Homo sapiens: one gene and its partners. The protein of the gene in region 1 purifies or fractionates together with the protein of each later gene. This does not show direct contact. Each region holds a gene or a part of one and is shown in the gene's direction. Other genes may lie near its edges. The genes, in order: ACKR3, LRRC8A, ANO6, HMGN3, TMEM177, ALG10B and AASS.

Region 1 (4,191 bases):
GCTGGCAGTTTTCCTTTCCAGCGTCTCTGGGGAGCCTGGAGATGTCCTTGGTGCCGATGTGACACGAAGAGTGATTGCGCCGCCCTGCAGAGGCGGTGGCGGGACGCTGCGCTCGGGCTGGGAAAGGCCGGCCCCAGGGCGACCCCTCCGGAGGCCCCCGGAGAGCAGGTGTGCACCTCGCCTCCCGCTGGGCAGCCAGTTCAGGAGAAAAATGTGAAGCTTTTAGCTAAACAAAATATTTCTTTCGTTAAGGGCTTTCTCCACACGGAGACTTTCTAGCCACGTGAGACTTTGACCTCCCAGTCCCCCAGATTCAGCGCTGGGACCGAGCGTCTGCTGTTATTTTTAGTAGAAGTATAAAAAGAATCTCGAAAAGTTTTAGCTCTGGAGAAGGCGTGAATACAGCTGGTGCCTTCATACACTCCACTTGAGCCGCTCTTTAAGAACTCCAGGAGATCAGAAAGCAATACGAAAGCCAGAGCATTGCACATGGGATGGGCTGGCGGGTGGCCTTTGGGTCCCTATCTTATGGACGATTTTTGTAAATGGGGCATTGGAGATGAGTATCACCTGGATCACATTTTTAGGTTGAATTCCTCCGTGGGGGGAACTTTAGCAATACGCATCCAAATAAGAATGTAGATTGCAATAATTGTAGTAAAGTGTTTGCCAGACTCATCTCAGAAAAAGACATTATCAAAAGGCATTTATTATCTTCCTAATGCGTGTCTGGCACTGGGCAGACACTGTAGAATACTATCTTGATTAGAGTCTCAAGGATTTTGTACTTAAAGTCCTTTACAAATAAAAGTATTCAAGTATAATCTATTATAAAGACTCTTTTCTCCACTTTGGGGATATACGGTGTGGCATCGATTCATTGGTCATACCAAAACTGTTACTTCTGTTTTGGAGGAATTAACAAGGAAAACCCAGGCTTAGTAAATCAACATCGAAGTTCAGAAGTTCAGAGTAATTTGTCTTGGGAACAAAGTCCTCCCTAGAGCGAAGAGGCATTCACAGGAGCTCTTGGTGTTAATGGGATTATTCAAGATATACCTGAGACCAGATAAATATTTGATGATTTTGCCAAGCACTAGGGTTTCTTTGCAGTTTGTCTTTGGCTGACGTTTTCCCCCCGTGGGGTTTGGACTTTGTGGCTTCACCAGATTTTGCAAATGAAAGAAGGCTGGGGTTTCCCAAGAGTACACTTGTGCAGGAAACAACAGACTAGTGAGGTTTACAAGAGGGGGGTGTGTGTGTGTGTGTGTCTGCCTGTGGGATGGGGGTGGCACGGGGGAGAGAGAGATGTGGGTTACAAAGCTGCCATCTAGAGGCTAGAGGCTCCTTTCTGCAGTGTATATAATGCAAGTCTGCAGCCAGCAGAGCTCACAGTTGTTGCAAAGTGCTCAGCACTAAGGGAGCCAGCGCACAGCACAGCCAGGAAGGCGAGCGAGCCCAGCCAGCCCAGCCAGCCCAGCCAGCCCGGAGGTAAGGAAACGGTGCTCGGGCAGCAGCTCTGCTCGGAAAGAAGGCACGGCTTCTGCTCTTAAGCCAAGTGGTCTTTTCAAAGGCCTTCTTTAAAATCGCTCAGATGGGTGCTTTTGAGTCTGCGGGTCTGGTTTCTGAAAACCCAGGCTGCACGCAGCTGCATTGCAAAGTGCTTTTGCTAATTCGGAGGGCTTCACCTTTCTCTTCAGAAAGCAAAGGGCAGTTTTCTTAAGTCACTTGCAGAAGGAAATTTCCATGTGTATTTAGGAATCTGGTGTTTATTTGCTGTGTGGCTATTTAAGCTCCAGTAAGCAGGGGAACTTTGCAAGAACACAGACTATCCATTCTGCCTGACCAATTTGGCATGGGGATTAGCTTGGCACCCACTGTTTACCTGTTTTGCTTCTAGTATATCAGTTTGGAAACAGATAAAATTGGCAGTAAATACGTAATTCCAGAATGATGAACACTTTATTAAGAGGCATCCTTAAATGGAGCAGAAAACTGCTGAGAATCTTTGTGAGTCCAAGATGTATTTGAATTCAGTACTTTGGGGGATTTACCAGAGTCTGTAAGTCCGGAAGCTATAAACGTGAATGTTAAACACAGCCCGGTCTTCTCTTCTCTTGATGGCACGCTTGCTAATCTAATTTGAGTATTGTTCTCTTAGAAGGTGTTAAGTCCAACTTCAATTGGGGTTGGGGGAAGCACACACACAAATCTACTATTTTGCAATTTAAATATACTCTTCAGGTAAAATGTGGATTTTGTTCAATTTTGTTGGCATGTGCAAAGATTCAAGGAGTGACTGAGAGAACTTTGGAGTGAGGTCAGGGATGGGTGGTTAGCCAAGACTTGTAACTTCCAGGGAGAATGAGAAGTTGTAAAAGTCAGACTGGCTGTCTCTCTTTCTCTCTTCCTCTTTCTTTCTTTCTTTCTTTCCTTTTGCTCACAACAGGATTACTTAGTGTTTCAAAAGTGGGAGAGAGCCTCCTTAAATGGTTTACAGCCCTTTGAATGTATTTGGTGCAGTGACATCCCCTGAAACTTCAGTCTGCAAAGTCTCAACATGGTAACTTTGTTCTTTTCTTTTTTAAAGGCAGATGCTGCTTTTAGTGTCCCTTTATTTATTCCAGGAAAAATGTGGACATCAGCTAGGCACGCCTAGCAAAGAAAGTGGAGGCTGCTGGTTTCTGTGCTTTAACTTTCCATAGATTTTAAATGGATAAACTGCTTGCCCTTCTTTCATCAGAATATGAGCTTTCCCCAGATGGAAAGTCTTTTCTAAAGCAAAGTTGCACATGGGAGCTCTAGCTTGGAAACAATTTGCTCTTTTTTCCCCAGTCTCTGCCATAAACACTTGAATGTGCACACAACTGCAGAGCTTAATGCCACAACCTCCAGGAGATTGGGGGGAGGGGAAAGCTGCCCAGGATGGGGGTGGGAAAGCGAAGGAAGATGGAGAAATGGCTGCAGTTTGCTGCCCATCAGCTTTTCTCTTTTAAGGGGCAGACATTGCAGACGTAGTTTTAAAAAAGTTCCATAAAGCATCGCCAAGGCAGCATGCCTGTGCGACACACGCAGGGCTTTGGGGGTGTGTTTTCCCCGTATTAACAGCAAGTCGTTGAAGCGTTGAGAAGGTATTATGATTTCTAATCAGGCCCAGAACAGGCCAAGTATAGGCTTTCTGAATGAAAAAAAAAAAAAAAAAAAAAAAACCCAAAACAAAAAACCCTGCTTAATCAGGAACAGTGGCTTTTTGTGTGATCATTTTAGGGCGAGAGCTCCTGTTTTCAAGTCGACGTGAGGGAAATTGGTTGAAGTCACTCAAACCTGAGGCTGAAGGGCAGTCACTTTATAAACCTTAAGAGTAACCGAGGGGAAAGAAAAAGACCTCAAAGATTGCAAAACTTTAGATTTTTTTTTTGTGATTTTGTAGAACATGAGGGGAATCTGGGGCCAGAAGGCATTTGTACCTTTAAACCAGGCAATCAAATAACTTAGTTTTATTATTAGAAGCAAGAATAGTATTAAAACGCCTTCAATTGGATTGCACGTGTGTAGGCATAATTCAGGAAGAAACTAAAGATCGTGTCATGTCAAGTGTTACTAAAGTTCAGGAAGGAAAAGACAAAGCTCCAGGACACGTATTTTCTGTTGAAATAAAAGAAAGCAAGCCAGAAATAGACAGATCAGGACAGGGAGGCGTGCAGGCGGTGGCCCTGATTTTGAATATTTGATGGTTTCCTTCAGGGAATGTTTGATGCTTTTATCGACTAATTTGGAATTGAAAAAAACAAAACAAAACACTATTGCTTCAATATTAAAGTGATCAGGGAATTGCATAATTTTATGGTGACAATTTTAAAGAGCCACAGGTAGTTTTGGAAGCAGACTGTGTTTTGTTCCAGGCACTGAAAAAGTGGATGGGGGCCGAGACTATCTCAGGTGGCCTTGAACCACTGTTGGCAAAGGGACAGATAACGAGCCCAGGGCAGTGTGGGGGACTTTGCGTTTTGAAGTCTGGGTCAGCCAGATAGTAAGCATCTTTTGCTTTTCCTGCTATAACAGATATGTGGCCATCCTCCCTCAGTTGTATATGCAGAGCCTAAGTTTGCACAGTGTCCTCCTGGGAACCCCATTGTGTCTGGCTTAGGGCGGGGGTGAGGAGGCTCTCCTAGCCTGGCTGACCTCCCACTG
Region 2 (2,703 bases), on another chromosome or scaffold:
AGGGCGAGGCCAGAGCGTGGGGCACATGGGGCCTGGGGAGTTGGCTGGATTAGGAACTGGTGACTTTGGCCAGAGAGTTAAGGGTGGACAGGGTCATGGAGGCAGAGTGAGGAGAGAGACAGCGGCTTTCCTGCAGTTGGTCAGGAAGGCCAGAGAGCCAAGGACAACGCTGGGGCCCTGGAAGCCTCCTGAGAGAGTTGTCCTTTTCAAAGATCAGGTCGAGTTGAGGCCTTTCAGTGCCGATGGGGACCCACTGAAGTCTCTGGGGAGGTAGGAGAGGGTGCAATTGGGGGATTGGGAACCAACTTCAAGCCTCCAGGGCACGGGCCGGCGACAATCCGACAATCCAGCAGAGAAGGATCGGTCCAGAGGATGGGTGTGGCTGTGGTGGGAGCCGAGCAACTGAGAGTACCTCCCCTTTTCTCTCTGGGGCCTGGAGAGGGCTCCCTGGCTCAGAGCAGGGCATGTTCTGGGGAGGAGGCCTTTCAGGGAGGGGGCTCCAGAGCCAGGCTCCATATGGACCCGAGCTCTGCCACTCGCTGTCCAGAGCTTTCCCACTGTCCCTGACCACTGCATGTGTCAGCAGAGGAGATCACGGGGTGGGAGTGGGGTCTTTCTGGGAAGGCTCTGGCCCCTGGGTGCTCCAGAGCCCACTTCCTGTCTACCCTCTGACCTTCAGCCCCTGCTGACCTCAAAGCCAACCCCAAATGCATTCCTGATCCTTGGTCACAGTGGTGGCAGTGTAGGATACACAGGTTAGGAGCCTTTTTGAAAGCACCCCCTGTGCCTGGGCTGGGCATGGTGGCTCACGCCTGTAATCCCAACACTTTGGGAGGCCGAGGCGGGCAGATCACCTGAGGTCAGGAGTTCAAGACCAGCCTGGCCGACATAATGAAACCCCGTCTCTGCAAACAATACAAAAATTAGCCGGGCATGGTGGTATGCGGCTGTAATCCCAGCTACTCGGGAGGCTAAGGCAGGAGAATCACTTGAACCTGGGAGGTGGAGATTACAGTGAGCCAAGATTGCGCCACTGCACTCTCTGGGTGACAGAGTGAGACTCCGTCCCCCGCCCCCGCCCCCCAAAAAAAAAGAAAAAGCACTCTGCCGGGCCTTGGCCATGCTTATCTCCCTGCTGGGAAAGCCACGTTGCTCCCCAGGAACTCCTGGGCCCTTCTCTAAACGCGGCTGGAGAGAGCAGGTGCCCGTGAGGTTGAGGTCCGAGTCTGCAAAACGGTCCTCAGCCACAGAGTGTCCAAGCTCAGTTTCTAGTCCAACCTGTGCCTTTTACAAATGGGGAAACTGAGGCCCAGAGAGGGAGGGACTTCCAGAGTTACCCTGTAACTGAGTGCCATATTTGGCAGAAGGGAAATACAGCATGGGCTCTGAGTGGGAGGAAATAAGACGTACATCCTCTCCTGACCCTTTCGGAGAGGCTGCAACCTCAGACGAGTGGCGTGTCATCTCTCTGGGCCTCAGTCTCCTTGGCAGGAAAATGGGGGCGGTGATAGAGCAAGCTCAGAAGGGCTGCTGTGCCATCTCCCCATCATCCTCACTTGGGATCAAGGCCCAGGGCTCCTGGCTCCTGCCCTCCTGCCCATCCCATCTGAAGGAGGCAGCCTCGGGACGGGCAGGCTCAACTCATGGCCTTACTTACACGCAGTAAGAACTCATGGCCCCAGCTGATTCCTCGCAGCAGGGCAGGGAAGAAGCTGGCATACGTGAGGCTCTTCCTGTGTGCCAGGAGACAGCACGAACCCACTGCAGCCCCCTGTTTGCTCCTTGCTCCGCTAACAGTGTGGACGGTTCACCAGAGCATGGGCTGTTGAACCGGGTTCAAATCCTGGCTCCATCACTTACCAGCTGAACCTCTGGACAAGTCAGCGTCTTTGGGCCTCAGTTACCCCATCTGTAAAATTGGAAGAGTATTGACAGAATATTTATAGGTAGTTTGCTGGTTAAATAAATTAATAGTATCAGTGCTCACAGTGAGCCTGCCACACATTAAGCTGCATACGGGTGTCGTCTGTTAACAGTAATTGCTCCATATCCTCAGGGAATGTGGTCCAAGGTCCCCCGTGGATGCCTGGCACTGCAGGTAGTGCAGAACCCTATATGTTCTGTTCGTTGCTATTCACAGGTACCTATGATAAAGTTTAATTTATAAATTAAGCATAGTACACTTAGGCTTTGAGGCTATTATTATTTTTTTGAGATGGAGTCTCACTCTGTCACCCAGGCTGGAGTGCAGTGGCGCGATGTCGGCTCTGCAAGCTCCGCCTCCCGGGTTCACGCCATTCTCCTGCCTCAGCCTCCCGAGTAGCTGGGACTACAGGCGCCCGGCACCATGCCCGGCTAATTTTTTTGTATTTTTAGTAGAGACGGGGTTTCACCGTGTTAGCCAGGATAGTCTCGATCTCCTGACCTCGTGATCCGCCCGCCTCAGCCTCCCAAAGTGCTGGGATTACAGGCGTGAGCCACCGCACCCGGCCTAGGGGGTGGATTTTCTCAGCATGCTGTTTTGCTTTCATAAATTGTTGTTAAGCTGGGCAGAACCAACAGCCTGGCTCCTGGTGAGCCCTGGGATGGAGGTGGGAGCAGCTGGCCAATGCGATATACTTCCCAGGGCCAGGTGCTGGAAGATAGTGGGGATCGAGGCAGGCAGGTCTCATCCTTAGAGCCCACATCAAGGGGGTAACAGAT
Region 3 (3,500 bases), on another chromosome or scaffold:
CCTCTTCTCCATCTTAAAGCCAGCAAAGTTTCGTGTTTGTGACTATCTTCTGTAGTCACCTCTCCCGCCTTCTGTCTTCTTCCCCCTGTCCTCCTCCTCTCATCTCCCCCACCACCTCTTCCCTTGTTTAGAAATAAAAAACCTCTACCTTTATAAAAAGTCTTTTATCCCACTATATAGCTGGGAATTTTTTAAAATTTATCACCCTTCTTTACAGGCTCTCGCCTCCTGCCATGTTGCCCTCTTGCCTCCATCACATACAACTTCTCTCTCCTTTCTTCTCCTACTCCTGGCTTTTTTCTCCCCAGTCACCAAGTTTCTGTTCATTCTCTTTATTGAGCAGTTAACTCACTCCGGGTTTCAGTGCCTCCTTCCAGATTTCTTTAACAGGTCTTATTCTCCATCTTCAATGGAAACTGTCAGGGTCTTTCTCTAAACAAAGATCTCTCTCCTTCCTCTTCCCCCACCCAGAAAGGGATTCTGGCTTTAGCTGTGAAATTCTTTTTTTTTTTTTATCCTACTCCGGAGAAAACAACCCTCACTTTCATTGAGCTCATATTCAGATTTTTCCAGATAAGTAAAAGTAGGTCATGCATAAATAGTACTGTGTTTCTAGATGAAAACAAATATATAAAATTGAGGAAAGTCTTAATCCATTCTGAGATTAAAAAGGGTTTTCTGAAAAAAGTAGGTTAATTATTTAACACTATGTTTCGGTAACATTGGTTTTTAGCAGCTATTTCCTAAACTGGAATTGAGAAATTCATATGAAATGAAATTTGTTCACATGAAATATTTTAAAGGATGAATTATACTATCCGTGGTTTATACTTTCACTTCAAGTAAGCTCATTGTTGAAAATTACAGTGATATGAACTTTGCCTTCAAATTTCTCCCCCTATGTTTTCTTGTTTGAAAACTGAGAATGCTGAGTGTTAGCCAAATTAGAGAGTGACTGGTGCTGCTTCTCTTTGTGTAGGTGCCAGTTTTCTTAACTTTTTTATACAAAGTCCTAATTTATCAAAGATATATCAGCCAGGTGCTGTGGTTCACACTGGTAATCCCAGCACTTTGGGAGGCCAAGGTGGTCAGATCACCTGAGGTCGGGAGTTCGAGACCAGCCTGACCAACATGGAGAAACCCCATCTCTACTGAAAATACAAAATTAGCCAGACATTTGGTGCATGCCTGTAATCCCAGCTACTCAGGAGGCTGAGGCAGGAGAATTGCTTGAACCTGGAGGCGGAGGTTGCAGTGAGCCGAGATCGCACCATTGCACTCCAGCCTAGGCAACAAGAGCGAAACTCCATCTCGAAGAAAAAAAAAAGATATATCAGTTATCCTTTCTATCCAAAACTATACCCACCCCCCAAAAATAGATAGAGAAAAGCCTTATAAGTCAGCAGTTGTTTTCACATCGTGTAAGTGTGTCAAGAGAAACATGGAGAAATGTTTCACCACACATGTACCCTCCTCTTCCTTCCTTCCTCTCCCGCCTTTGGGCCCATACCCCTTGACTAGGATTCTTGCAACAAGGAAAGGAGCATATCTGGCTCAGGGATCCAGGTTCCTTTTGGGGCCTCCCCAGTACCTGGCATATGACAGGGACTCAGTATGAAGCAGCTGAGTGAATGAATAAGTGCCTTGTATGCTTCAGATACATCACATCAGTAAATTACAGAGTTGTCAGTGAGACCCGGAGAGCAAGCTCAGAGCCCTTTGGCCTTCCCAGCTCCACCTTAGTGTTTTGATATTTAAGGTATTCCTGGGGATTTTATTCTGTTCTTAATAAAAGGCTAGTATAATTCCTGTGTTAACTCACTCTGGAGAAATTTTTATAACAAAATGTCAGAGATAATAGAATTAAGGATCCAAAATGTCTGTAGTATCAATTGTTTGGTATTTAGTAGATAGCTATAATTTTCCTTTATATACATTTATACATGTATATTGTAACATAAACGCCTCTTCTTATATAAATAAGTATACTTATTTATATAATAAGAAAAAAGAACTGTTTTAGGAGAAAATGTCCCTTCTCAGGATAGGATTTGGAGAGAAGATGAGCTATAGGCAATCAGAGTCCTAAATATAGGTGTCCCTCACTATCCACACTTACTCTCTAGGTTCAGAAACAGTAAACTGACACATAAAATAGATTCAGATAGTGAAGGATGCTTGTATTTCAAAATTAGCAAGTGGGAATACTGTAGAACGTCCTAAACAGAAATGATGATCATCTCCATTATGTGGATTAAATGTGATAATGGAGTTGAAGAGGAAGTGAGATGTAAAGTGCTTCTCACCATGTTTTGTACAAAATAAGGACCTAGTAAAGCATAACTTATGATGTGGCTATGACAATACACATGGTAAATTCCTATGGAAATTATTTTGTAACCCCTGCTTCTAGCCTTGGCCAGGGAAAACGTATCTGGTGTGTATATTTTTCTAAAAGTTCTGTGGGTGATTCTCATGTGAAGTCAAGATTGAGCTCCCTGCACTAGAAACACAGACCAATAGAAAACCCAAACATGAGTGGTTCAACTCAGGAAAACCAAACAAGAGGCTCAGCATCTGTAACTCAGAAATGAAAGCTAGTAAGAAAGACTTCTAAGATGACCTGATATGAGACGGAAGCGCCAGCTGACACAAGTAGTTGCCAGGACAGAAGTTTCATCCTGAATCTGAGCTTTGATGTGATTTAGAGCCCAGACAGAAAAAGACCTGCTTCTCTGAGGGCATGGAAAGGATTCAGCAAGAGGCGGAGGCTAGAAGTTTGGGAGGCAAAGCAAAGTATAAACAAATAGAAACCACACCCAGTGACCTTAGAGTTCGGTGTCATGAAGGGTGATGGACATGTGTGGTCCTTGGTGCTACCTGAGTCACCCCCCCCCCCCCCCCCGGAATGACTGCAAAACTGCAGATTCTGGAGCTTATCTCAGACCTTTTAGTTGGGAGCACAGGAAGCTGCACTACTCACAAGCATTCCATGTCATGCTTGTATGTGCTGAAGTGGGAACCACTGATCCAGGTGGCCTGGATAACTGAGCCAAGAGTCTACGTAATATAGGCCATATTTACACTTGGCCTCAGCCAGTGCAGCCTGTATTGCTCAACAGAAAATCCCATTCAGCAGGTTTTGATGTGTTAGGAAACGTGCTACATCCGTTACCTATTTTGAATCATTTAATCCTGACAGCAGCCCTGGGCAATGTAGGTTTTATCACCCCGTTTTATTTTTTTACCAAAGTTAACCAGCTAAGAAATAGAGTGTGGATTCAGATTCAGGGGTGTCTGAACTCATATCCCATCCACTTTCCACAGCCTCCTGCTGCCTCTCTAACATCATCAAAAAGAAAGAAGTGGGGAAAGATTGTGAGGTCAGAGACGTCTCCTGTAGTAGAGATAATTTCCCCTGAGTAAAGCTTCAGTAGCAGTCAGTGAAAAGTGAGCCCTGAGATCAATAGCAGTGGGAAACCCAGCAGAGTGAGCCGTTT
Region 4 (2,938 bases), on another chromosome or scaffold:
TGATAGTTTTTTTTTTTTTTCAGTATTTGTGTAATTTAAATTATCTTTGCAGAAACCTGCTCCACCAAAACCTGAACCCAAACCAAGAAAAACATCTGCTAAGGTAAGAAGTGCTGTTTCCCACTTTTGGCTTTTTAAACAATGAATAAATTATAATTCCCTACCTCAGAATCATTCAAAGAAAGGCCGTATTTAATGATCCAAACTGAAACCATTACCACTGTTACGGGCTTGCTTAAAGGCATAAAGCACAGTTTTCTGCGTTAATAGGAGTGTGTTTTCCATTTGGTCAGTGAGGCACGGGAAGTCAGAGATGTTGCTCTGAGAAGCCTCATGTCCGAAGGGGGTTTGGCAGCAGCCTCGTGAACATGCGGTTCATGCGGCACACAGCGGGGATGAGTTTGGGCCCTGGCAGCACTGCCCCACTATGGGAGGAATTTGGGAAGGGGCTTCTGACTTCATCTAACTGGATTTCGCAGGCCAGTCTGAGGTCTAATAATAATAATATAATAATGCCAGCAGGTAATATTGGCATTTATAAGGCCCTTATAGTATGGCAGATAAGGTTGATTGCTTTACTCATATGACCTTCACATCAACTCTGTTGAAGTAGATACAAATATCCTGTTTTGCAGATGAGGAAACTGAGGTACAGAATTCTTAGGGAACTTACCCAAAATGGCTTTTCTGCACTCTGCCCTTTGGTATTGTCCCATGTGAATTGTTTAAAACTTATGTGTATAGTGGCATGAGTAGGTGATTTCAGAAACAGAACTCACTTTTGTTGTTTGGTCTTAAAATTAGGAACTTTTCTTCATCTGGGCTTCATTTCCCTGCACCTTCCCAGCTTTCTAGTCATGCAAGCCACATGTCTCCACGTGAGGGGTTCATTGGAAAGCAGCCACAGAGCCACCCCCTGGCTGGGTTCTTCCCCAGCTCTGCTTCCTCCTTCCCCAAGTCCTGCAGCTGCTCTCTCCATGGCAGAACCACTTCTCCCCTTACTGGAGGGGAGGTCCACTGAACAAATCCAGGAGAGGAATCATTGTGTTTTCCACAGAAGAGAAAGTACACTGGACTTTCTGTGCAACCTGTTACTACATTTTCACAGAGACTCATATTTGTGCAGTGTAACTCAGTTGAAACCCAGCAAAATTAGGCTCCCGTGTCTCCATAAAGGCCACCATGATGGTAACGGTTGTACTTCACCTTGTGTTTGGACAGAGGCTGATTGATTTTAGCCATCATCACACCGTGTCTAACATTCTCTTTCACTGTGCTTTGATCCTCTGTTAGAAAGAACCTGGAGCAAAGATTAGCAGAGGTGCTAAAGGGAAGAAGGAGGAAAAGCAGGAAGCTGGAAAGGAAGGTACTGCACCATCTGAAAATGGTGAAACTAAAGCTGAAGAGGTACTTTCCATAAATACCTCCCACTGATTGAATCAGTGTCTTTAAAGAAATTTCTCAATCCTTCAGCCGGTGATAGCACGTTCTTAATGTCTCTTTTTATTGCCTGTAATGTTATTGCAGATCCACATCTCTCGCTCAACTGTTAATGTCTCAACCTCCAGAGGCACCCCACCCAGCACACTGTCAGTAAAGGGGCAGATTGAAACAGTGAGAGTTAAGGGTACAGTAGAAAATTCTGCATGTTTGCAGTGACTAGAATCAGATAGTAGTGTGGTGGTTTTTTTTTTTAATCATTATGAAGAGTGGGAGCTTGCAGGTAAGGCTTCTGTGGTGGTTTGAAAAGCAGAAAGCAATAAATGAAACAAAGTGTTTGTGTAATATATTCCTGCCTTGTCTTCTTCACTCAGAGTTGAAATAGGTTTTGCAGTAAAGCTGGAAAAAAAAAAGAAAACAAATGTTCAAAACTGTGTGTGTTGGTGGGTGGAATTTCCTTTGCTTATAGTAGTTTCAGTAGTAACTATATGTTTTTTTTTCCTTTCTTTTTCACAGGCACAGAAAACTGAATCTGTAGATAACGAGGGAGAATGAATTGTCATGAAAAATTGGGGTTGATTTTATGTATCTCTTGGGACAACTTTTAAAAGCTATTTTTACCAAGTATTTTGTAAATGCTAATTTTTTAGGACTCTACTAGTTGGCATACGAAAATATATAAGGATGGACATTTTATCGTCTCATAGTCATGCTTTTTGGAAATTTACATCATCCTCAAGTAAAATAAATATCAGTTAAATATTGGAAGCTGTGTGTAAGATTGATTCAGCATTCCATGCACTTGCTTTAAAATTTAGTCCTGTGCATACTGTGGTGTTTTTACTGTGCATATTTGAATTTTTCATGCAGTTTTTCTAGAGCAATAATCAGTGGTGCTTTTGTACCTAGGTTTTATGTGATTTTAATGAAACATGGATAGTTGTGGCCACCTGCTGACTATTTGTGGTTTAAAATAAAAGGTTTACTTGTCTGCAGAATACCTGACTCTTAGTATCTTTACTGCATTTTGGGAGTGTTTCATTTTATTGTTGCAGAAGATATAAAGAATTTTGATAGACCTTGCCATAGCGGTATCTCCAATAAGTCAAATAAGATTGTTTCTTAATTTTCTGGCCTTTAACATTGTTACTATTTTAATAAAATCATCTATGAATGCTAATGTAGAAGAATTACATCTAATTCACTTTATACCAGAAGTGGCCAGCAATGATTACTGTATAATAAAACTTTATAAAGCACTAATTTTTAAAAATCCTTATAAATAGGATATAGTGCTGCTAAATCAAAGCTAGTAAAAAAAAAAAAAAAAAAAAAAAAAAAAAAAAAACATAAACTAAGGCTCAACTTTGAAAATCTCCCACTTTTGAAATGATAAATACTAAGTCACATTTGTACAAAATCCTTCGCATTCAGTTGAGAACTTCACAGCTTTGAAAGTGCTTTACCCAACATGAGCATGTTTCAGCCTTGCATCAGT
Region 5 (4,113 bases), about 120 Mb from region 1:
TTGCCCTGTAGAATGTCCCACATTCTGGCTTTGGCTGAGGTCACATTGCACTATTTACATACAAACAACTGAGCAGCCAAAATTGGGGGGGGGGGCTCAGAAACAGAACAGACTTTAATAATAATAGCTAATGGCTAGGCGGCACAAACCGTGAGGCACAGGTTACATATACACCAACTCATTTTATCACACAGCTAGTAAGGGGTGGAGCCCGGCTTTAACCCTAGGCAGTCTGTTTTCACCCTCTGTAAAGGATTGGGCATGGCTGTGTTCCAAGAAAACTTTATTTACAAAAGCAGGTGGAGAGCTGGATTTGGTGCACAGATTAGATGATCCCTCATCTACCTCACAGAGCAGCTGGAAAGGAGAAATGACAGATGGCACGCTGCTCTGTGGACTGTACAGTGTGAAGCACCTGGGAGGAGCTTGGGGGGCAGCGAACATGGTAATAAACATAAAGCTCAGAGCTCCCCGCCAAGGGTGAGCGCTTCCAGACGGAGAAGTACACGGGCCGGCCAGTCAGATGGGCATGGGTTCTGATGGGGGCCCTGCCATAGGCCGCCTGGTGACCCACGCGGGGCTGCCGTTCCTTCGGGGGTTCAACGGCATGATCAAAGACACCGGGATGTGTGTGTGTGTGTGTGTGTGTGTGTGTGATGATCAAAGACACCGGGGTGGGTGTGTGTGTGTGTGTGTGTCATGATCAAAGACACCAGGGTATGTGTGTGTGTGTGTGTGTGTGTGGCATGATCAAAGACACCGGGGTGTGTGTGTGTGTGTGTGTGGCATGATCAAAGACACCGGGGTGTGTGTGTGTGTGTGTGTGTGTGACGGAGTCTCGCTCTGTCGCCCAGGTTGGAGTGCAGTGGCGTATTCTCGGCTCACTGCAACCTCTGCCTCCCAGGTTCAAGCGATTCTCCTGCCTCAGCCTCCCCAGCAGCTGGGGACTACAGGCGTGCGCCACCACGCCCAGCTAATTTTTGTATTAATCAAAGACGCATTTCAACGCAGAGGAGGAAGTGCTAGCGGACCCACCCCAAGGTGCACAGTTAGAGAAGGAGCCTCTGCGGCGGCCGGAGCCCCCCACGGACATCCCCTTGAGGCCCCCCCAGCCACACCCCCAAGAGTCCCGCCCCCAGACCCGTCGAGCGAGCTCCCCTCCCTGAAATCCTCGCCCCGAGATCTCCGGCCGGCGAGCTCCGCCCCCTGAAGTCCCCATCCCAAGATCCGGGGCCGGCGAGCTCCGCCTCCCGAAGTCCCCGCCCCCAGATCCCCGGCCGGCGTGCTTTGCGGCCGCCCTGCCGCGCGCACATGTAGGCGTTCCGAGCGGCGGCGGAGGTGAGCGCACGGACGAGCGGGAGGGACCCTTCTCCGGCCTGATGCGACCCGGTAACGCGTTCAGACTGCGGAGTAGCCTAGGGGCCCAGAGTGGAAGCGTAGCGAGGACCCCTCTGCGGGGCTCCTGCAGCCCCTCCTCCCCCAGCCACCGGCGGGCTGCATGGTACTGTGTTCTAGGCCCACCCCGCAGCGCGATGGCCCTAGGGACGTTGGACTTTGGTCCAGACCTTTCCTTTCTTAGCCTCACTTTCCGCATTGGGAAAAAAAAAAAGCCCGAATGATAATGATTCTTATAGGAGTTCTTGATTAAGATAGGCCAAGCGGTACCCTGCGTTTTTGTTTGCGGCAACTCATTCGTTGCTCATTAAGCACTTTTCACGGACAGGAATACAGTAAGTTTCAATCAAAGTGAAATAATTGTGAATTTTTACTGACGTATTCACGGATGAAGTGATAGGATGCCCGGGGATGTTTCAAAATAAACCAGTTGGACGGAAGTGTGGTGGAAAGAGAAATCAAACAAGATTGGCCATGAGTTGATGGGATTGAAGTTGATGGATGTACTATTTTGTCTACTTTGGTATATGCTTGTAATTTGGCATAACAAGTTTTCTAAAACAAAAAGTTTGCTGTGGACACCTGACTATGCCTGTGTTAGCTTGCTAGAGCTGCCATGCCGAAGTACCGGAGACTGGGTGGCCCAACCAGCAGAAATTTGTCCTCTGGGAGTTATGGAGGCTGGAAGTTCAAGACCAGGGTGTTAACAGGGTTGGTGTCTTCTGAGACCTCCCTTCTTGGCTTGTAGGTGGTAGCCTTTTCCCTGGATCCTCACATGATCTTCCTGCTGTGCCTGTTTGCATCCTAATCTCTTCTTATAAGTACACCAGTCAAATTGGATTAGGATCCATACTGATGGCCTCATTTTATCTTAATTATCTCCTTAAAGACCCTGTCTCCAAATACAGCCACAGTCTGAGGTACTGGGGGTTAGGACTTAAATATATGAACTGGGGAGGAGGAGGAGACACAGTGCAGCCCATAACACTGTCACTTCACTAGCTTAGGATTTTGGCCATTTAAGTTTTCACAGCTTTGAAATAGGGTTAGCTGTAGTAATTAGGTCATGGGGTTGTGAGGGTTCAATCGGTAAGAGTGCTCAGAACTGAGTCTAGCATATAGTAAGCACTCAATAAATTGAACACGTTTTTCCTTATAAATTAGTAATCATAGGGCTTTACCATGGGATGAGTGGAATGAGGCAGTTGGAGTGCCGTGCCCAGCGATGGGAATAAAAGTCATTACAGCCATTATTATAAGGAATATCTGCTGCTGTGCCAGACACTAAATGTTTTATGTATGTTTATTCATGTGCTCATCACCGCCACCCTAGAGGTGGGCCATTACGACACACCTGTTTGGCACATGGGGAAATTGACGCACAGAGACGGAGCTGGGATTTGAACACAGGCACTCTGGCTCTAGAGCCCACACTCTTCACCACTATGCTGTGTTACTTTGGTTTAAAAAGGTGGTGTGGACCCTGGAGGATGTTCAGTCTGCAGGCTGACCCAGGGAAACTGGCTGACTTCTCTTTTTCTTGGCCCAGATTGTCCGCAGTGACTACACTCATGGCAGGTCCCCTGTGGCGGACCGCAGCATTTGTGCAGAGACACAGGACAGGCCTCTTGGTGGGTTCCTGTGCAGGCCTGTTTGGAGTTCCAATCTCGTACCACCTCTTCCCGGATCCCGTGGTCCAATGGCTCTACCAGTACTGGCCTCAGGGCCAGCCAGCTCCGCTCCCTCCACAGCTGCAGAGCCTCTTCCAAGAGGTGCTACAGGACATAGGTGTTCCTTCAGGCCATTGCTACAAGCCCTTCACCACCTTCACCTTCCAACCTGTGAGTGCAGGCTTCCCAAGACTCCCTGCTGGGGCTGTGGTGGGCATCCCTGCCAGTTTCTTGGGAGACCTAGTGATCAACACTAACCATCCCGTGGTCATACATGGGCATACAGTGGACTGGCGGAGCCCAGCAGGCGCCCGGCTGAGAGCTTCCCTGACCTTGTCCCGTGAAGCCCAGAAGTTCGCCTTGGCCAGGGAAGTGGTGTACCTGGAAAGCAGTACCACTGCCGTGCACGCCCTGCTGGCCCCAGCTTGCCTGGCAGGGACCTGGGCACTGGGCGTGGGTGCCAAGTACACCCTGGGGCTCCATGCAGGCCCCATGAATTTACGGGCTGCCTTCAGCTTGGTGGCAGCAGTGGCAGGCTTTGTGGCCTACGCCTTCTCCCAGGATTCTCTCACTCATGCCGTGGAGTCCTGGCTGGACCGCCGCACGGCCTCCCTCTCTGCAGCCTATGCCTGTGGTGGAGTGGAGTTCTATGAGAAGCTTCTGTCGGGCAACCTGGCCCTGCGCAGTCTCTTGGGCAAAGACGGGGAGAAGCTGTATACACCCAGCGGGAACATCGTCCCCAGACACTTGTTCCGAATCAAACATTTACCCTACACCACCCGCCGGGACTCTGTGCTGCAGATGTGGAGGGGGATGCTCAATCCGGGCCGCTCCTGATGGGCTCATCACAAGGACACTTCCAGCTTGTGCAGACACCACCCTGCCATTGAGTCTGGAGGGCCCTGTTGGAGCCTTTGGACCTATAGCTCACGGCCAGAAAAATCACTGGCTTTGGAATTAAATAGCTTAGATTGTACTATAACCACTACTTATGAACTCAGGGACTATGAGGGACTATTCAGGGGCTATGAATCTGAGCCTTTGTTTC
Region 6 (3,448 bases), on another chromosome or scaffold:
AAAATTATAATAAAAATAGAGATTGAGGACATATTTTTAACATATATCCATGAGTCAACACTAATATTTAATATTTGAGATTTGAAAAATTATTTCTAGGGTAAGAAATTCTGTCACAATATAATATCTCTATATTGTGCTTTTTTAAGAGATAAATTTTTGATGAATTTAATGTTAATTAAATTTTATCTCAGCCTATCACCATCAGACCAAAAGACAATACAGTATTTTTCTAACAAGGAAAAGAAAATACATATATATATATTTATATATACAAATATATACGTATTTATATATACAAATTTGTATATATGTAATGTATGTGTGTGTGTATACATATAATTTCTCCTTTTTTTTTTTTGTAAGAATTGAGACAGGGTGTCACTATGTTGTGTGGGCTGGTCTCAAAACACCTGCCTCAAGTGATCCTCCCACCTTGGCCTCCCAAAGTGCTAGGATTTACAATGAGCCACTGTGCCAGCTTCCAACAAGAAAAATATTAAATGTATTGGTTTTTCACAGTGAAACTTAATTCAGTTTAGTTGAACCATATATGTGTGTGTATGGCATATATAAGATGAAAAAAGGAGAAAAAGTAACAATAATAATGATGGTTGCCATCATTCATTGAACACCTATAATGTTTTAGGCATTATACTAGCTGATTTACAAATATTGTCTCATTTGATGCTACATTTATATTTCTATGAGGCAGATGTTGATTTCTCTTTGACTGCTGAAGAAACTGAAGGTCGGTCAGGTCAGGTGATTTGCCCAAAGTCCACACTGTCACTAAATGAACATAGATTGGTATGACTCCCAAGCCTGTGAGTTTTTGACCGTCATATTCTGCCTCACTATGAAAAGTTTTTTTTCAATTTTTTTTAAATCAAAAGAAGTAGTATATGGAGAGAGAGGTGAAAATCCATGTTTGCTCTCTGCAGTTTCCAAACCATTCATGACGTGTTATTTTTGTACTGGATATAGTCATTTTTTAAAATGCTACAAACTGTTCAAAAGAGCATGAACAACATGATAACTCCTTATAATTTTGTTGTAAGATAAATGACTAAAATTATGTGGGATATTTAATTTGGATAAGTGGAAATTCTATCACTTGATAAGCTCTCTTGAAGAATAATTATTTGAAAGATTGGACTTAATTCTGTATTGCCTGAAGTGTAAATCAGAGGTCAACAATTAGATTGCAAATCATGAAAAGCATAACTTCTAATTGTTTAGTCTTTTTAGGGAAACAAGCCCAGAAAAAAAGTAAGATTCTCATTCATTGGAGATAAGATTTCTATTTATCAAAGATACTACACAAGAGTTAGATAGCAAGTAGTTCAAATGTCTTTTAAAGGTATCTGACATCTTTAAAGCTCTGTAATTTTTAAATTCTAAATTTTGTTACAGCTAATTTTTAAAAATTAATTGCTAAGTCATGGTCAAGTATTTCTGATGACTTACATGCTGTCTTTGGTATATTTTAAGTTTCTAAACCAAAACTACTATTTGACTCTATTACACCCTGTTTTAGAAAAACATTTGAGTTATACAACTTACTAAAATGTATTTTAGCGGTGATGTTTTGGAGCACTGGTAATATAGTGTTTAACTTATTTTCTATTTTTTATCCCTCTATATTCGTGAAATTACTTCTATTTGAAAAGTTTTCCGCCAGTGATAAAAAAAGGCTGAGCACTATCTGTAAAAATTTTTAAGGTGTCCACTAGGTGGAGATATTGTGCTACATTTCCAAGTGTTGTAGTTAAACTTTTATTAGTCTGAATTAAACTCTTTTATAGTGTTTTATTGTTTTAAACCACAAAGATTTATAATCATTTATATCTATTTATCTAATGTTATTCAAATGTTTTCTGCGTTGTATGAAGCTAAGATAAATGTAAAAAAAACAAACAAAAAAAACCTCACTTTGTGTTTTGTAATCATTAGACGATTTAACCTAATATATCTTCCCATATGATATGATCTTTGCATATGGCATACTTCATTCATATGACATAGTTAGAATCTTTTCCCACAAACAATGAGTGATGATATCTCATTTGAAAACTCGTGTAACATTGTATCAGCCACTGTTATAAAGTGATTTACCCATGTTAGTCTCATAACAACTCTATGAGATCAGTACCGTACACATGGGGAAACTTAGTATAGAGAGGTGAAGTATTTTTTCCAAGATTACAAAATAACTGTCTGAGCTGGGATTCGTAACCAGGCAGCCTGACTCCAAAATCAATATTCTTAACTCTATTGTTATGATGGAGAAAGGCATGAAGTCTACCTTCAAATTCATGGCATTTTAGAAGGAAAAATTGTCGCAAGTAATGTGATTATACTTCCTAGTTTTATAGGTCAGAAAAATGAGGTCCACACTAATTTTGCCTCTTCCACAGGGAGATAGATTCTCATCTACCATTGTGTCTTTTGTTTCTGTTTTTGTCATGATACCTCAAATTGATATATGTTGTAATTATGAATTTAAGGAAGTAAAAAAATAACTCAGGGCTGGAGCCTTCAGCCATATTAACATACATTGACATAAAGACCTTTGTTTTAATATGAATGATTCCAGTTAACAAATGGAGAAATAGTTGTTTGAAAATTAATATTTAGCTTCTCAAAAGAGACTCCTGTTTGGAAGCAAATTGTTGGTTTAACAGGACATACTTTAGATATTTGAAAAATTCTCTGTGGAATCACAATCTCTTATTTTTAAGAATGTAGGAATATGTGTTCTATATGCTTTTAAGTTATGTATTACATACTATTCTCTAAAATAGAAATGTTTATTTGGCTTCTAAAAGTCATTTGTGAGTTGATGTTATTTAAAACTGCTTTTCAGTCAACTTATTCTTTATAAAAAAGTTTGTTCAAATAGCATGTTTTTATTTTGTTTCTAAATAAATTCATGTTTGATAATATTTTATAATGTGTTGTGTCTATTTTTTTTTTTTTTTTATTGATCATTCTTGGGTGTTTCTCGCAGAGGGGGATTTGGCAGGGTCATAGGACAATAGTGGAGGGAAGGTCAGCAGATAAACAAGTGAACACAGGTCTCTGGTTTTCCTAGGCAGAGGACCCTGGGGCCTTCCGCAGTGTTTGTGTCCTTGGGTACTTGAGATTAGGGAGTGGTGATGAGTCTTAAGGAGCATGCTGCCTTCAAGCATCTGTTTAACAAAGCACATCTTGCACCGCCCTTAATCCATTTAACCCTGAGTGGACACAGCACATGTTTCAGAGAGCACCGGGTTGGGGGTAAGGTCATAGATCAACAGCATCCCAAGGCAGAAGAATTTTTCTTAGTACAGAACAAAATGGAGTCCCCTATGTCTACTTCTTTCTACACAGACACAGCAACAATCTGATTTCTCTATCTTTTCCCCACATTTCCCCCTTTTCTATTCGACAAAACCGCCATCGT
Region 7 (3,500 bases), on another chromosome or scaffold:
TATGATTTTGAACCACATCTTCTGGAAGGATAAAATGTGAGACCAAGTTACTCAATCACAAGTAAGCCAAGAAAATGTCCAGCATCTGCACCTCACTAGTAATACTGGGAATTCATGAAATACATCTATACGTCTGTAGATATATATCTCAGAGATGTCAGGTCTATTGTTCTTCATTGTACAAAATGTAAAATAATTAAAGAAACATGTTGTTATAGGGAACTCATTCATGTTGAAATTCTTATTTTAAGTAATGTGAAGAGAAAATGTTGCTTCATTATTTAGGTTTTAGTATGATTTGTGGAATGCAAGATTCTGTTATTTAAAAAAAAATTTTTAATTAGCCCCTTCCCTTTTTTTTTTTTTTTTTTTTTTTTAAATAGGGAACGTGCTCAGTCACTTTCAATGGGCACCAGGAGAAAGGTTTTGGTTCTTGGATCTGGCTACATATCTGAGCCTGTATTAGAATATTTATCAAGAGATGGCAATATAGAAATAACAGTAGGTAAATAAGCCCTAATTTTTGAAGAAGAAAAATGTATTTTATAGCGTGTTGACTTCTACATTTTAGAAGACTACTTTGTTTCTGAAATTTGAAAATTTATTTTTGGAGATGTTAAAATATATTTTACTCTGACATATCTAAAAATGTGACTTTTAATTACTGAAATAGGATCTGACATGAAGAATCAAATTGAACAGTTAGGCAAGAAATATAATATTAATCCTGTTAGCATGGACATTTGTAAACAAGAAGAGAAGCTGGGCTTCTTGGTGGCAAAACAGGATCTTGTCATCAGGTCAGTATCTGGCAAGAAATGAGTTTCATATTTTTGTTGTTATTTCTTTTCTCATTTTTCTTTCTCTTTCACTTCTCCTCTCTTCATACTCCTTTGGAGTAAAGTTTTTAATTGAAGTATGGGTCCAGAAGGTGCACAAATCATAAGTATATAGCTCAATGAATTTTCACAAAGTGAACACATTCTGTGATGATTATTTATGTCAGGAAACAAGAGTATCAGTAATTCCCCAGAAGCCCTCCTGGTGCCTCTTTCTATTCACTTACCCCATCCTCTAAGGGTAAACACTATCCTGGCTTCTGACATTTAGTTTCTGCCTGCTTTCAGACTTCATATAATTGGAATCATTCAATATATCCTCATTTGTGGCTTCCTTCTTCCATTCAATGTTGTGATTACAAGAGTCATTTGTGCTATTGTCTGAAATGATAATTTATTCATTCTCATTGCTGTATAGTATTTCATTATGTGAATATACCATTATTATTTATTTGACTACTATAGATATTTAGGTTGTTTCTGGATTTTGGCTATTATAAGTCACACTGCTATACACATTTCGGTATTTGTCTTTTAGTGACCATTTCACTAAAACAGTAATTATACATTTCTGTTGGGTATGTACTTAGAAGTGGGATTGCAGGTCATAAGGTATTAATGTTTTATATACTTAAGTGTCTATTTTATCCTTTGGAGTTATAAAGCTTAAATGGAATAAGTAGATTATTTAGCCTTATGACCATTTTAAGTCTCATCATAGCAACAGATCCTGAAATAGAGTATTACTAACAAAAATGCAGATCTAACATCTAGACACAGAATTACATGAGATTCACTTTATAACTAAATTTGGTTTTGATATTTGAGTACATATGTACACAAAGAAAGGAACAACAGACATCAGGGCCTGCTTAAGGGTAAAAGGTGGGAGGAGGGTGAGGATCGAAAAACTACCCATTGGGTACTATGCTTATTACCTAGATAATGAAATAATCTGTACACCATACCCCCATAACATACAATTTACCTGTATAACAAACCTGCACATGTACCCCTGAACCTAAAATAAAAGTAATAAATAAATAAATAAATAAATTTGGTTTTGAAATGTCAAAGTGATGAAAATAGTCATTCATTCCTAGAATTTTCCCAAGATGAGAAGAAGAAAGTTATCTGTTCCCTCATAGTGATTACCTAGTCACTTTCACAGATCAGATTCAAATTGTATCTTTGGAGGAAGTTCTGTGATGTTCTGCTTTAAAAAAAAAAAAGCAGGCTTGGAAAACATATAATGAAAGGTAGTTCTGTAGGCTGGCATTTTTACATTTCTCTTGATATCTTTAAATACAGGCTAACTTTATGCACTTAAAATGTTACTCAATTTATATAAATGTTATGAGCGTTAATTTTTATTTAGAAAAAATTGACTAATGACCAACTGAACCTCTCTGATATTACCATGAAAAGAAATTCTGATTCAAAATAGAATGATCTAGCCTTCTGAGTAGAACAATAATTTATTTTGCCACACAGAGGTATCTAAATATATCATTTTTAATTAAAAGTAAAATAACATGATAAAATCCATTTGGAACAGAATCTGAAATAAAATGTGACAAGATAATGGACAAAGACATCAATCTCTTAATATGTCCAAATTTTAAAATTTAGCAAACTAGTGGCCTTCAATAGGATTTAGCATTAGCAAAAACTGTTTTATATTTAATGTTTTCTCATTTGGTGTATTTTCTATGCTGAATAATGGTAATGCCATTAAACAATGTTATCCTATAACATTCCTTAAATTTTTTTTTTCTTTTTTTTGAGACAGTCTCATTTTGTCACCCAGGCTGGAATGCAGTGGCACAATCTTGGCTCACTGCAACCTTCACCTCCCAGACTCAAGTGATCCTCCCACCTCAACCACCCAAGTAGCTGGGACTACAGGCACTTGCCACTATGCCTAGCTAAAGTTTGTATTTTTAGTAGCAATGGGATATCACCATGTTGCTCAGGCTGGTCTTGAACTCCTCAAGCAATCTACTTGCCTCAGCCTCTCAAAGTGTCAGGATTACAGGCATAAGCCACCATGCCTGGCTAATTGTTTTATTTTTTAAGTTGGGGAAAGAATGTTTTGATATAACCACAGTGATAGGGACTACAAAAAAATGAGTAAAGAATATGTTTCACAAAAAATGTTTAGTAATATGTACAATTCTCATAGTTATAATTTTTCAAATTTAGTTTTTAATTTAATACAAAGTAGTAATTGATTTCAAGTTTCTTTGAAAATTCCACATGTATTTTGTGTGTATTTTTCACAAGTGACATTTTCGACCTTTTGGAGTAATTGGGTTGGAGTCAACTTAAATAATTTAAGAGTATGTCCCATTGAGTGCTTACTGTATCATATTCGAGACGAATTATGAACTCTAATCCCTTCGTCTAAAAAAGTACCACAGGCAAAGTCCTATCATTCTACTTCTCAGCCTATTATAAGGCCAAAGTTTTAAAATATTATTAGATCTTAGTAAAATTTTGATTGAGCAAGTTTAATATGGAGAATGTGATTTAAAAATTTCTGTTTAACCTTTAAGATGATGACATTGCACATTTTCTATTAATATTTGGTTCTAATAGTTTTGCGAGTATTTTGCTCAGTGGTTTCCAAAAGTCTACTAAATTTGTTAGCAGTAATTA

What was found.
Region 2: the proteins of ACKR3 (region 1) and LRRC8A purify together in Homo sapiens (co-immunoprecipitation; one large-scale study listed by IntAct). This does not show direct contact.
Region 3: the proteins of ACKR3 (region 1) and ANO6 purify together in Homo sapiens (co-immunoprecipitation; one large-scale study listed by IntAct). This does not show direct contact.
Region 4: the proteins of ACKR3 (region 1) and HMGN3 purify together in Homo sapiens (co-immunoprecipitation; one large-scale study listed by IntAct). This does not show direct contact.
Region 5: the proteins of ACKR3 (region 1) and TMEM177 purify together in Homo sapiens (co-immunoprecipitation; one large-scale study listed by IntAct). This does not show direct contact.
Region 6: the proteins of ACKR3 (region 1) and ALG10B purify together in Homo sapiens (co-immunoprecipitation; one large-scale study listed by IntAct). This does not show direct contact.
Region 7: the proteins of ACKR3 (region 1) and AASS purify together in Homo sapiens (co-immunoprecipitation; one large-scale study listed by IntAct). This does not show direct contact.

The regions. Positions count from the first base shown.
Region 1 is NC_000002.12:236,568,434-236,572,624, forward strand, and holds the start of ACKR3 (atypical chemokine receptor 3), read left to right. Parts: upstream 1-1,391; 5' UTR 1,392-1,491; intron 1,492-4,191. UniProt on the Homo sapiens protein: Atypical chemokine receptor that controls chemokine levels and localization via high-affinity chemokine binding that is uncoupled from classic ligand-driven signal transduction cascades, resulting instead in chemokine sequestration, degradation, or transcytosis.
Region 2 is NC_000009.12:128,913,133-128,915,835, forward strand, and holds part of LRRC8A (volume-regulated anion channel subunit LRRC8A), read left to right. Parts: exon of another isoform or gene 1-2,259; intron 2,260-2,703. UniProt on the Homo sapiens protein: Essential component of the volume-regulated anion channel (VRAC, also named VSOAC channel), an anion channel required to maintain a constant cell volume in response to extracellular or intracellular osmotic changes.
Region 3 is NC_000012.12:45,404,595-45,408,094, forward strand, and holds part of ANO6 (anoctamin-6), read left to right. Parts: intron 1-3,500. UniProt on the Homo sapiens protein: Small-conductance calcium-activated nonselective cation (SCAN) channel which acts as a regulator of phospholipid scrambling in platelets and osteoblasts.
Region 4 is NC_000006.12:79,200,745-79,203,682, reverse strand, and holds the end of HMGN3 (high mobility group nucleosome-binding domain-containing protein 3), read left to right. Parts: intron 1-52; coding exon 53-103; intron 104-1,293; coding exon 1,294-1,407; coding exon of another isoform or gene 1,408-1,434; exon of another isoform or gene 1,435-1,527; coding exon 1,528-1,620; coding exon of another isoform or gene 1,621-1,659; exon of another isoform or gene 1,660-1,956; coding exon 1,957-1,995; 3' UTR 1,996-2,438; downstream 2,439-2,938. UniProt on the Homo sapiens protein: Binds to nucleosomes, regulating chromatin structure and consequently, chromatin-dependent processes such as transcription, DNA replication and DNA repair.
Region 5 is NC_000002.12:119,677,888-119,682,000, forward strand, and holds the start of TMEM177 (transmembrane protein 177), read left to right. Parts: upstream 1-1,313; 5' UTR 1,314-1,389; exon of another isoform or gene 1,390-1,730; intron 1,731-2,944; 5' UTR 2,945-2,966; coding exon 2,967-3,902; 3' UTR 3,903-4,113. UniProt on the Homo sapiens protein: Plays a role in the early steps of cytochrome c oxidase subunit II (MT-CO2/COX2) maturation and is required for the stabilization of COX20 and the newly synthesized MT-CO2/COX2 protein.
Region 6 is NC_000012.12:38,326,774-38,330,221, forward strand, and holds the end of ALG10B (dol-P-Glc:Glc(2)Man(9)GlcNAc(2)-PP-Dol alpha-1,2-glucosyltransferase), read left to right. Parts: 3' UTR 1-2,948; downstream 2,949-3,448. UniProt on the Homo sapiens protein: Dol-P-Glc:Glc(2)Man(9)GlcNAc(2)-PP-Dol alpha-1,2-glucosyltransferase that operates in the biosynthetic pathway of dolichol-linked oligosaccharides, the glycan precursors employed in protein asparagine (N)-glycosylation.
Region 7 is NC_000007.14:122,095,750-122,099,249, reverse strand, and holds part of AASS (alpha-aminoadipic semialdehyde synthase, mitochondrial), read left to right. Parts: intron 1-383; coding exon 384-505; intron 506-673; coding exon 674-800; intron 801-3,500. UniProt on the Homo sapiens protein: Bifunctional enzyme that catalyzes the first two steps in lysine degradation.